Homo sapiens: one gene and its partner. The protein of the gene in region 1 interacts with the protein of each later gene in a pairwise test. Each region holds a gene or a part of one and is shown on either strand. Other genes may lie near its edges.

What was found.
Region 2: the proteins of TDRD7 (region 1) and GABPB1 interact in binary tests that used the Homo sapiens proteins (3 or more experiments, as listed by UniProt).

Annotation. Positions count from the first base shown.
Region 1 is NC_000009.12:97,491,807-97,496,635, reverse strand, and holds the end of TDRD7 (tudor domain-containing protein 7), read right to left. Parts: intron 974-4,829; coding exon 753-973; 3' UTR 511-752; downstream 1-510. UniProt on the Homo sapiens protein: Component of specific cytoplasmic RNA granules involved in post-transcriptional regulation of specific genes: probably acts by binding to specific mRNAs and regulating their translation.
Region 2 is NC_000015.10:50,303,106-50,310,404, reverse strand, and holds part of GABPB1 (GA-binding protein subunit beta-1 isoform beta 2), read left to right. Parts: intron 1-606; coding exon 607-714; intron 715-6,271; coding exon 6,272-6,439; intron 6,440-7,281; coding exon 7,282-7,299.

The DNA of each region.
Region 1 (4,829 bases):
TGATCAAAGTACGATGGAGTAGAAAGGGGTACCAGAGAAAGCTTCATGGTTGGCCCAGGAGGTCAGGCAGGACACTGACAAGCAAAAATGATGGGAGGAGAATGAGATGCAGGTTGACAGAATGGAATAAGCAGGGGTTCAGTGACCAAATAAAGGTACAGTGTGGCAGGGAGTGGTAGATAAGGAGGTTGGGTAGGAGGATTGTAGAAAGCCTGGGTCCTAGCTGGACTCTGTGGGCAATGAGAAGAGAAGCCACTCAAGATTTGGGTTGAGGGTCACGTTGGTTTGCCTGGGCTGCTCCTCTAGAAATGCTGATGTGTTAAGACTCAGGATAAGTCCTCACATGCTTTGGTGATCACTTGCTTTGAGATACACTACTACATCAGGGTAGAGTTAAGTCATAATAGTCTCAGCTTCACTGGAGAAGAACCCAGCTCTGCAAGGAAGACAACATGAAACGGAAGCTTTCATCTTAAGATCATGAAGCCTAGAAATTAAAAGGTAGTCAGCTTTTATATTGATAAACATTTTTATTCTAATATTATAGTAATAATTCAAGTACAATTTTCTTTGAAAAGTCAACTCTGTTAAAACAAAACTTGTTAAATATCTTTCATCAAACATAAGCATATTCTTTTCAATCCCCCACAGCAGTCAGAGCCATGTAGCAGAGTTAAGATTTTTTTTAAGCCTACTACATTTTGTTATTGCTAAAAAATCTGAATTAGTTGTCAAGGTTTCAGAGGCAGTCATTAATTAACTTTTGAAAGCTCTATCAGATACTCTGACATAAAATCATGAATCCAGGTATCGGTGTCTGGCAACGATGTGTCCACTAAGTAGACCACTACTTTCCGGTCCCAAGGGTTAGCATTTTCAATGACTGTCTGCACCAGTGCCACCAGAGGTTTCTTCTCCACATGATTTCGAAACACCATAGAAGCCTCCTCAGACCACTGGTTGCACTTCACTCCTAGGAGGAAGAGAGGAAGAAGAGGGAGCAGTGAGGAGTCAAAGGAGCTTTTCTTTGATCCATTATGATGGAAAATTATTTAGTCAATTCCAAAGTAACTTAAGCATCCCAGGTTAGACTTGCCTGAACTGAAAAACGGTTACTGAACAATCTTAAAACACTCCAGCTTATAGTTTTTCTACTCTGAATGGAGTCACTCTGGAAATCTTTAACTAAAAAACAAGTTTCATTTGAGACTTAACATTGTATTATAAAATGAGGTAATAATGACTACTGTACAACCCCCATAAAGTATATGCATATTTAAACTAATAACAGAATAAAATATCAATATCATATTAAATGACATTTCTTTCATTAAAAATTTTTTTTCTGATGGACCAAATATCATAAAAAAAAAGAATTATTGTATGATTCATTTACAGTATAGTTATTTAAAATTATACACAGCATCGTGGGAAAAGCACTGAATTGAAAGTCAACAGACTCAGTTACTATTCCCAGCTTTTCCTCTATCGGGTGGTGTGGTCTTAGGCAAATCAGCTGATCTCACCTATGATAAAAGAACCTGATTGGATCAGATCATGAGAAATCAAGTTAGAGAATTCTAAATTCGATTTTAAAACAAAACTGGGACAAGAAAGTACACATTGGCCGGGCACAGTGGCTCACACCTGTAATCCCAGCACTTTGGGAGGCCAAGGCGGGCAGGTATCTTGAGCTCAGGAGTTCGAGACCAGCCTGGGCAACATAGCCCAGCCCTGTCTCTACAAAAAATACAAAAATTAGCCGGGTGTAATGGCCTGTGCCTATAGTCCCAGCTACTCAGGAGGCTAAGGGAGGAGGATCGCTTGAGCCTGGGAGGTCAGGGCTGCAGTGAGCCGTGACTGCATCACTGTACTCCATCCAGCCTGGGTGACAAAGTGAGACCCTCTCGAAAAAAAAAAAAATATATATATATATATATACATATATATATACATATTTCAAGAAATACAATTAAGTCCACATATACTGGATTACATAAACTGTAAATTATGCCCCAAAGTAATTAAGATATGGAAATTTCAGACATAATTTTGGAAGACTTGCTATCTATATAGCAAATGGGCTAAATTCTTTGATTATTTATTTCCCACAAGAGAAGCCTAGAAATTTCATTTTATCTGCAGCAGCCCTGACAATCTTTGAGCCATGTTATTTAAGAAGAAAAAAGGTAACCCATTGGTAAGGTAAAAGATGATTCCACAGTATGGCTCCCTTTCTTCTAGGATTCAGAAAATTTTGTGCATGGCCATGGTGCACTGATGCAAAGAATGCCCAGGTCAAGGCCAGATGTAATGAAGCAACAACTCACTGGTGTTGTGGGAAGTCAGGAACCCCAAATGGAGGGACCGGCTGAAGCCATGGCAGAAGAACATAAATTGTGAAAATTTCATGGACATTTATTAGTTCCCCAAATTAATACTTTTATAATTTCTTACTCCTGTCTTTACTGCAATCTCTGAACATAAATTGTGAAGATTTCATGGACACTTATCACTTCCCCAATCAATACCCTTGTGATTTCCTATGCCTGTCTTTACTTTAATCTCTTAATCCCATCATCTTTGTAAGATGAGGAGGATGTATGTCACCTCAGGGACCCTGTGATGATTGCGTTAACTGCACAAATTGTTTGTAGAGCATGTGTGTTTGAACAATATGAAATCTGGGCACCTTGAAAAAAGAACAGGATAACAGCAATGTTCAGGGAACAAGAGAGATAACCTTAAACTCTGACTGCCAGTAAGCCGGGCGGAACAGAGCCATATTTCTCTTCTTTCAAAAGCAAATGGGAGAAATATCGCTGAATTCTTTTTCTCAGCAAGGAACATCCCTGAGAAAGAGAATGCGTCCCTGAGGGTAGGCCTCTGAAATGGCCGCTTCGGGTGCGGCCGTCTTTTATGGTCACTGCTGTAGGGATGAAATAAGCCCCAGTCTCCTGTAGTGCTCCCAGGCTTATTAGGACGAGGAAATTCCCACCTAATAAATTTTGGTCAGACCAGTTGTCTGCTCTCAAACCCTGTCTCCTGATAAGATGTTATCAATGACAACGTGTGCCCGAAACTTCATTAGCACTTTTAATTTCGCCCCGGTCCTGTGGTCCTGTGATCTCGCCCTGCCTCCATTTGCCTTGTGATATCTTATTACCTTGTGAAGCATGTGATCTCTGCGACCCACACCCTATTTGTACACTCTCTCCCCTTTTGAAAATCACTAATAGAAACTTGCTGATTTTACGGCTTAGGGGGCATCACGGAACTTGCGGACATGTGATGTCTCCCCCGGACACCCAGCTTTAAAATTTCTCTCTTTTGTACTCTGTCCCTTTATTTCTCAGACCGGCCGACACTTAGGGAAAATAGAAAAGAACCTACATGAAATATCGGGGGTGAATTTTACCCGATATCTGGCTGAAATTTCCCCCAATACACTGGGAACCTTGAAAGGGTGGGCATCCAGTGATCCCATTTGTGAGCGAGTAAGGGGTAATCCCAAGGTCCCTGGAGAATCCTTAAAGCATTCCAGTTTAAACACTCAGGGCATTCCCATGGGTTCCACTTAGATTCCACAGAGCTCCTTTACATCTAGAGATATTCCTAAATATGTCAAAGGGCTTGGCTAGGTGTGAACCAAGTCTACCAAAGTGATGACTCCAATGGCCATGTCACAACCAGTGACTTCCATGAAACTTCTAGTCTACCTCGCTTCTCTCTAGTGGATGCCTATGTTGGCCCAAGAGAGACATACTCTCCGCCACATATAGTTTAATAGTTCCAGTTCATATGTTTTCAATTAATTATAAAATGGAGGTCCTCCCTTCAAAATGGATAATGTGATACCCAGGAAGATTTTGTGACTTAGGAGCAAGTCAAAAGGAAGAAAGAAGGCTTGGCAGAGGTGAGCCTAGAAAAGGAACTCAGGACATGGATGGGACCCAACAGCAATGCTGTTTCAGATGTAAGTGTACAAAGAAACTTTCATGTATTTGGACTATGAGTTTTAGTTCAAAAGGCAATTTCATATTCACTTTTTCATCTGATCCACATATTAGTTCAGTCACATAGACAGGATAGGAATTTACTGGTAATTTTATAAATAATCATGGGGTAGGTTTAGAAGTTAAATGACTTGAATCTCAGCCTTTTGACTTCAAAAACCACACTTTTCATGGAGAAGGAAGTATACAGTGAAGAAAGGCACACACTGAAGAGGCAGAGTGCTGAGTTTAAGGCTGTGGTGTGGGATCTTGGACAAGATATTTAACTTCACTAAGCTGCTATTCCCTGATGTGTATAACAGTTATAGTAACAGTACCTAAACCTCCTAGCATGGGGAGAGTTCAATGAAGTAAAGCAGTTGGTAGAACTTCTGCCTACCGATCTGGCATGTAAAGAGCTTAGAAGTTGCTACTGCCTCCTAATAAGAAACAAAAAGCTGAACAAACAGAAAATCAACAACTACTCCTAGGTCCATCAGAGAAGGAAGGTCACAGGGCAATTCACTGTCCCCAAAACCAGAGAGACAGACAGGAAGATACTGAGAGTCAAAGCGTACTAGAGCAGAAACCAATGAGCAGAGGCCTGGAAGCCAGAGGAGGGAAACCTAAACTGTAACTGACAAATTGCTAGGGGTACATGTAAATAAGTCTGAGAGTTAAAAACTCCAGGGGAACCCAGTTATAGGGCCCTGTCTCCCACACTTTTGAGAGTTTTACCTCCAGAAGCACTACCTGGTACTCACAGTGAATATCAGGGAAAAATCTCCTCATGCTTCCAGTTGGGGGAGGAGAAAAGGAACATTTTGAAATACA
Region 2 (7,299 bases), on another chromosome or scaffold:
TTAGACCAGCTTGGCTGGGTGGGGTGGCTCATGCCTGTAATCCCATCACTTTGGGAGGCCAAGGCGGGCAGATCATTTGAGGTCAGGAGTTTGAGACCAGCCTGGCTAACATGGTGAAACCCTGTCTCTACTGAAAATAGAAAAATTAGCTGGGTGTGGTGGTGCATGCCTGTAGTCCAAGCTACTTGGGAGGCTGAGGCAGGAGAATCACATGAACCCAGGAGGCGGAGGTTGCAGTGAGCCAACATCGTGCCACTGCACTCCAGCCTGGGTGACAGGCCGAGACTCTGTGTCAAGAAAAAAATAAATAAATAAAAATTTAGGCCAGCTTTTCTCTGCTACTTACCTCTTCTATCTTTTACCAGATGTATTTGGAGAATTTAAACTACTTTTATTCTAAGTAAAAACTTAATGAGAAAGGAAAATGGATTCTAAAATCCAAATATAAATTGCTTTTGTATGATCTGTAATTTTAAATTAACCATAGCACACTCTTTTGAAGGGATAATTGAGAACTGACTTATTAATAAAGACAGGAAGGGAAAATGTCATGTCATAGTGTATAAATGGAGATTTTGATGTTCAGTTCATCTATGTTTTGTTTAGATGTCCCTGGTAGATTTGGGAAAGAAGCTTTTAGAAGCGGCACGAGCAGGTCAAGATGATGAAGTTCGTATTTTGATGGCAAATGGAGCTCCCTTTACTACAGACTGGGTAAAGAATGATTTTAATATTGTGTGTTCTTTTTCCTTCTCATTTTTGAGTTTTTGCAGAGAAAAATGTAGTCAGTATTGTGTTTATAAGTGGTAAAAAGTTATTATTTTTGCAAATGTGTTTATTATTTTAGAATTATAACTGTCCTAAAAGAAGTGGTTTATATTATTTTCTTTGATATTGGACAACCTTATCCAAATATTTCATCCACAAAGAGTTTTTCTTTCAAACTGTGGAGTGCATTAATGTGGCATGAATATAAAAATGTATCTGCTTGGGATTTAATTTAAAGGCCTTATAAATAGCACAGGTAGAATTTATAATTCAGAAAGATACTGATAAAGATTGGAGTTAGTGTTAATAGTCACTCCTAAAAGAAAAACAAGTTTATGTTTCAATTATTACTTGTAAAACTGTTGCAGACATGACGAAAGAGGAAGAAAGGAATGGGAATGAGATCTTGACAACTATGGAAAGAAGGTAGTTGTGGGGAAGGCAAAAAAAAATAACTCTTTAATTCTGGGGGCAAATAAAAAAGTATTGTCTTGTGGATATGGAATGCTAGGAATCTGAATTAACCTGCCCATTGGTAACAACTAAAAATTCCAGATTTTTGATTTTGCCGTTTTTGCCTTTCTTTCTCTTTTTACATTTTTCATGAAAAAACAAAATTTTTTATTATAGAAAATTTCAAATATATATCAACGATATCCCTGTAATACCCTTTACCCAACTTCAAAAATTATCAAATCATGATGAATATTGTTTCCTCTATAACTCTGTCTACTGTATTATTTTTTGTTCTGTATTATTTTAAAGCAAATTCCAGGGACCATATCATTTTATCCATAAATGTTTCTTTAAAGAATAAATAAATCTTTAAAGAATAAAGACTTTTTGATGAAATATTTTAAAGAAAGTCTTCTTAAGTACACTGCTGAATTAGAAAGAAAGAGATTATCAACCTGAAAAACTAAGTGAAGGCAAGAACCCAGAGAAATTTTACCCTAAAGAACATTAGGTGAACTCACACTTGTCTGGTGGTTTTTCCACCTCACTGGCTTGGGGTACTAAAGCTAAAGACCTGAGAGTGTTCATGGAGAGAAGTCTGATAGGAGATCTTATCTCATAATTCTGGAATCCCAAAGAGCTGCACCTTCAGTGTAGGGATAAAGCAGGAATACCCTGTCCCTCCTCCTGTCTGCTCCTGCCCTTGCCCCTGTTGCCGTGATGCTGCAAAGATAATAAGCTGATGTGAACCAAGACATCAAATGGAGAGAGGAAAACAATCTGATGGTGAGAATTTGGAATCACAAGGCATCCTTTTTACACACTTGCAGCCTGAACTCATAAATACTTGTGTAGTCTAAAAAACTGTAAACTGAGAAATGAATTTGAAGTGATCTTTGGACTAGGGATTACCCCAGGCTCTTGACAGAAGCAAATGAATATCTGCTCTGGAGGAACCTGCCTTCATCCCAGGCTTCATATCCACAAATGAAATTCAAAGGAAAGTGAGCAGTCAGAAATAACTAAACACATGAACACATGCCAATTTGGACAGTAATCTGCTAAAACAACTGTCAACAGAAGCAGACCTATAAGGACTTGAGATAAAATTTTAGTAACAGATTAGAAACAGCTAAAGAGAAAATTAGTAAACTGAAAGGTATGAAAAAAAAAATGATCCAGACTATGTCACAGATAAAAATAGATAGAAAATGTAAAAGAGATGTTAGGAATCATGAAGGATCATGTGAGAAAGTCTAACATCTGATCATAGATCCACAAAAAGAGCAAAAATAGGGATGAAATAATTCAAAGAGGTAATTGCTGAGAATTTTCCAGAACTGATGAAAGATGGCAGCCCACAGATTTGAGTAGCCTAACAAATCTCCAGCAGGATCAATTTAAAAACTAATCTATATCTAGATATATCATAGTGATGCTGTAGTACCTCAAGACAAAAAGATCTTTTTTTTTTTTTTTGAGATGGAGTCTCACACTGTTGCCTGGGCTGGAGTGCAATGGTTCAGTCTCGGCTCACTGCAACCTCCGCCTGCCGGGTTCAAGTGATTCTCCTGCCTCAGCCTCCCAAGTAGCTGAGATTACAGGCACCCACCACCAAGCCCAGCTAATGTTTTGTATTTTTAGTAGAGATGGGGTTTCAATATGTTGGCCAGCTGGTCTTGAACTCCTGACCCCGTGATCAGCCCGCCTCGGCCTCCCAAAGACAGAAAGATCTTAAGAAGGATTAGTATCCATAATACATAAGGAATTCCCATGGGTTAGCAATAAAAAGACAAGGCAATAGAAGACTGACTGGATATGGTGCTTTACCAAGGAGAAAGTTTGATCAATAAACATGAAAAGATACTCAACTACATTAAAATTGGGGCAAATGCAAAGTAAAATCATGAAATACTATTATATATCCACCAGATTAGCAAAAACAGTTGAGCAGTACCAAGGCTTGGTGAGGAGATGGTGGGAACTCTCAAATATTTTTGGTGGAAGTATGGAATTGGTATAATCGTTATGGAAGACAGTTTGGCAGCACATAGTAAATTTGGAGATGTGCATAGTATATGATGTAGCAGTTGGGCTTCTAAGACTATTCCCGAGAGAAGACTTGTTCATGTGCCTGAAACATATACAAGACTACTGTATTTAGCAGCAACATTATTCATAATAACACAAAAACTGGAAACAATCTAAATGTTCATCAGTAGATTGGTTAAATTAATTGTGGTTTACTCATTCAATGGAATATTATAGAACACAGAAAATTAGTAAGCTATACTTACAGTTATTAACATGGTGAATCTCATGAATACAGTGTCAAGCAAAAGAAGGCAAGTCACAGAGAAATACATGCAGTATAATTCTGTTTAAATAAAACTCAAAACAGGCAAAACCAAAGTATATTTTTTAGGGATAAGTGATACAAAGAAAACTAAGTAATGCTTGTCACAAAATTCAAAATATTAGTTACCTCTGGGGCTGGGGGAGGGGCTTGTGATCAGGGAGTGGCATGTGGGAAGATTTTTTTTTTTTTTTTTTTGAGACAGAGTTTCGCTCTGTTGCCCAGGCTGGAGTGCAGTGGCATGATCTTGGCTCACTGAAGCCTCTGCCTCCCGGGTTCAAGTGATTCTCCTGCCTCAGGCACCGAAGTAGCTGGGATAACAGGCGCCCACCCTCACACCCAGCTAATTTTTTATTTTTAGTAGATGAGGTTTCACCATGTTGGCCAGGCTGGTCTCGAACTCCTGACCTCAGGCAATCCACCTGCCTTGGCCACCCAAAGTGTTGGGATTACAGGCGTGAGCCACTGCGCCTGGCCAGATTTTAAATTACTGGCAGTGTTTTATTTCTAGACTATGGTGTTGATTCACAGGTGTTTGCCTTAAACTACATATATTGGCTGAGCACAGTGGCTTACGCTTGTAATCCCAGCACTTTGGGAGACTGAGGTGGCAGATTATTTGAGGCCAGAAGTTCAAGACCAGCATGGGCAACATAGACCCCATCTCAAACAAAAAGAAAAAAATTAGTCAGGCATGGTGGCTCAGCCTGTAGTCCTAGCTACTCTGGAGGCTGAGATGGGAGGATTGCTTGAGCCTAGGAGTTAGAGGTTACAGTGAGCTACGATAGCTCCACTGCATTCTAGCCTGGGCGACAGAGCAAGAAGCTGACTCTAAAAAAATGAATAAAAAAAAACCCAAAAAGCTACAAAAACTACATGGCCAGGTGTGGTGGCTCATATCCATAATCCCAGCACTTCGGGAGGCTGAGGGAGGAGGATCGCTTGAGCTCAGAAGTTTGAAGGTACAGTGAGCTGTGATCACCCCATTGGACTCCAGCCTGAGTGACAGAGTGAGACCCTGTCTCAGAAAAAAACAAAAAACCCTGCATATATGTATATATATTTTGTGTCAATAACCAAGAAGGGAAAGTCTCAGAAGACAAAAATAAAAAAGTAGATCCTAATGTCAAACTGAGCAAAGCTCCTGGTTGCTAAATGGGCTGTTGAGATATTTTCATTAAATACTGAAATTTAAGAGTATAGAAAAGGCTAGTTAAAGAAAAATTGACAAAGCATGGAGAAAGAAAGGATTGTTTAAGGATCTTCTTTGATCTGCTGGGATGACCTTCTCTTAAAAATGTAAGGTTTAGCTGGGTTTGTTGGTGTGTGCCTGTAGTCCCAGCTACTCTGGAGGCTGAGGTGGACAGATTGCTTGAGCCCAGCAGTTCAAAGCTGTAGTGTGTGATAATTGTACCTATGAATATCCATTGCACCCCAGCCTGGGCAACACAGTGAGGCCCTGTCTCTAATTAAACAAACAACAATTAAACAAACAAACAAACAAAAAATATATCTATCTCTCTATCTATAGATAGATAGATAGAGAGATAGGACTAAGGACCTTTATACATATATCTCACTTAATCTCTTCATAACATAATAAACTGTTTATATGTGTAAATTTCCTTAGTCCAAATATCTTAGTTCTTTGGAATATCAAGTGATGTGGTAATCAGAGGGTTATAGGGATTTTCTGTGCCTTTAAATGCATGTGATAGAACTTAATCTTCCTTCCCTCACATTTTAGTACTCCCTCTGTGTATTGTGGATGTCAATTTAATGACTAGACCACATGGAACCAATTTCAGGAGAATTGGGCTCTGTTTTGGTTTTGTCCTGATTCAACTTTGGCAAATGCACCTAAGATTTTTCCTTTGAAAAAAATCCCTTTAAAAAGATCACTGAGATGTTTCAATACGTGAATTTTTTAAGACCTACAAAACAATTTTGATCCACTTAAAGTAAAAATGTACACTGTTACATTTATTTGAGATGAATTTTACAGACGAAGTTAACTTAGCAAGTTTTGTGTGATTGGTATGAGGAATACATTCTAATACACAGAAAAATTTCTCAAACTCTATCTCTGATTTCTTTTTTTTTTTTTTTTCTTTAGACCAAAATCTCGCTGTGTCACCCAGGCTGGAGTGCAGTGGCGCGATCTCGGCTCACTGCAACCTCTGCCTCCTGGGTTCAAGCGATTCTCCTGCCTTAGCCTCCTGAGTAGCTGGGATTACAGGCACATGCCACCACGCCTGGCTAATTTCTGTATTTTTAGTAGAGATGGGGTTTCACCATGTTGGCCAGGGTGGTCTTGAATTCCTGACCTCAAGTGATCCACCCGCCTTGGCTTCCCAAAGTGCTGGGATTACAGGCGTGAGCCACCACGTTCGGCCTCTATATCTTAATTTCTAATGAAATTAATTTTGTTCAGGCAGTTTATCTGATAAAAAATAATGAAGAAAGAAAGTTTGAATTAAAGGAAATACTGGATTTTCTTCTTCATTGAGAGTGTTTGGGAATTCTTCAAGATGTCTATGAAGAGGATGTGATAAGCATGAATCTAGGCATTTCTTTTGAGTTTTGAGTTGCTATGTAAACAGATAATGTAAAGAAAATCTGTTTACTATATAAACAGAAGTGTAGTAACAATAATGTAAATGTGGATTTTTTTTTTTTTCTGTGGTACAGCTGGGAACTTCTCCACTTCATCTAGCAGCACAGTATGGTCATTATTCCACCACAGAGGTACTGCTGCGAGCTGGTGTGAGCAGAGATGCCAGAACCAAAGTGGACCGAACACCATTACATATGGCAGCTTCTGAGGGCCATGCCAGCATAGTAGAGGTTTTACTTAAGGTATGTGTTCTCTTTTTGCACTTTGCTTTTAAAATACTTTACGGTTTTATAAGAAGGAGAGGGAACTAGTTTTTGTTAAATGCCTACTTAGTATTTTATCTATAGTATTTCATTTTTTGTGTGTATAAGCCCATTAAATGAAAATTGTCTTATAGCTTTCATTTCATGAGGGACAAAACTTCATTTAGGTATATTCTTAGTTAAATCAGCTAATTGATTTCTTGGACCTTGGTCTATCTTATGATGAGGGACTACAGCATTTTTTCTTTTTGTTTTTTTTTTTTTTTTGAGACAGAATCTCTGTCACCCAGGCTGCAGTGCAGTGGCACGATCTCAGCTCACTGCAACCTCCACCTCCTGGGTTCAAGTGATTCTCCTGCCTCAGCCTCCCGAGTAGCTGGGACTACAGGCGCCCACCACCATGCCCAGCTAATTTTTGTATTTTTAGTAGAGATGGGGTTTCACCATATTGGCTTGACTGGTCTCGAACTCCTGACCTTGTGATCCGCCTGCCTTGGGCTCCCAAAGTGCTGGGATTACAGGTGTGAGCCACCATGTCCGGCCCTTAATTTTTTGTATTGTAGAGATGGGGTTTTGCCATATTGCCCAGGCTAGTTTCAAACCCCTGAGCTCAGCTGATCCAACCGCCTCGGCCTCCCAAAGTGCTGGGATTACAGGCGTGAGCCACTGCACCTGGCCTGGAACATCTATTTAACATATACATATAAATAATTGACTACATTATTTGTTCTTGCTTTAAAGCACAGAACTAATAATTTCATATCAGGAATTTTTTATGTGATATTTCATATTTTAGTAAACTCTTTGAAATATTTTTGTAGCATGGTGCTGATGTCAAT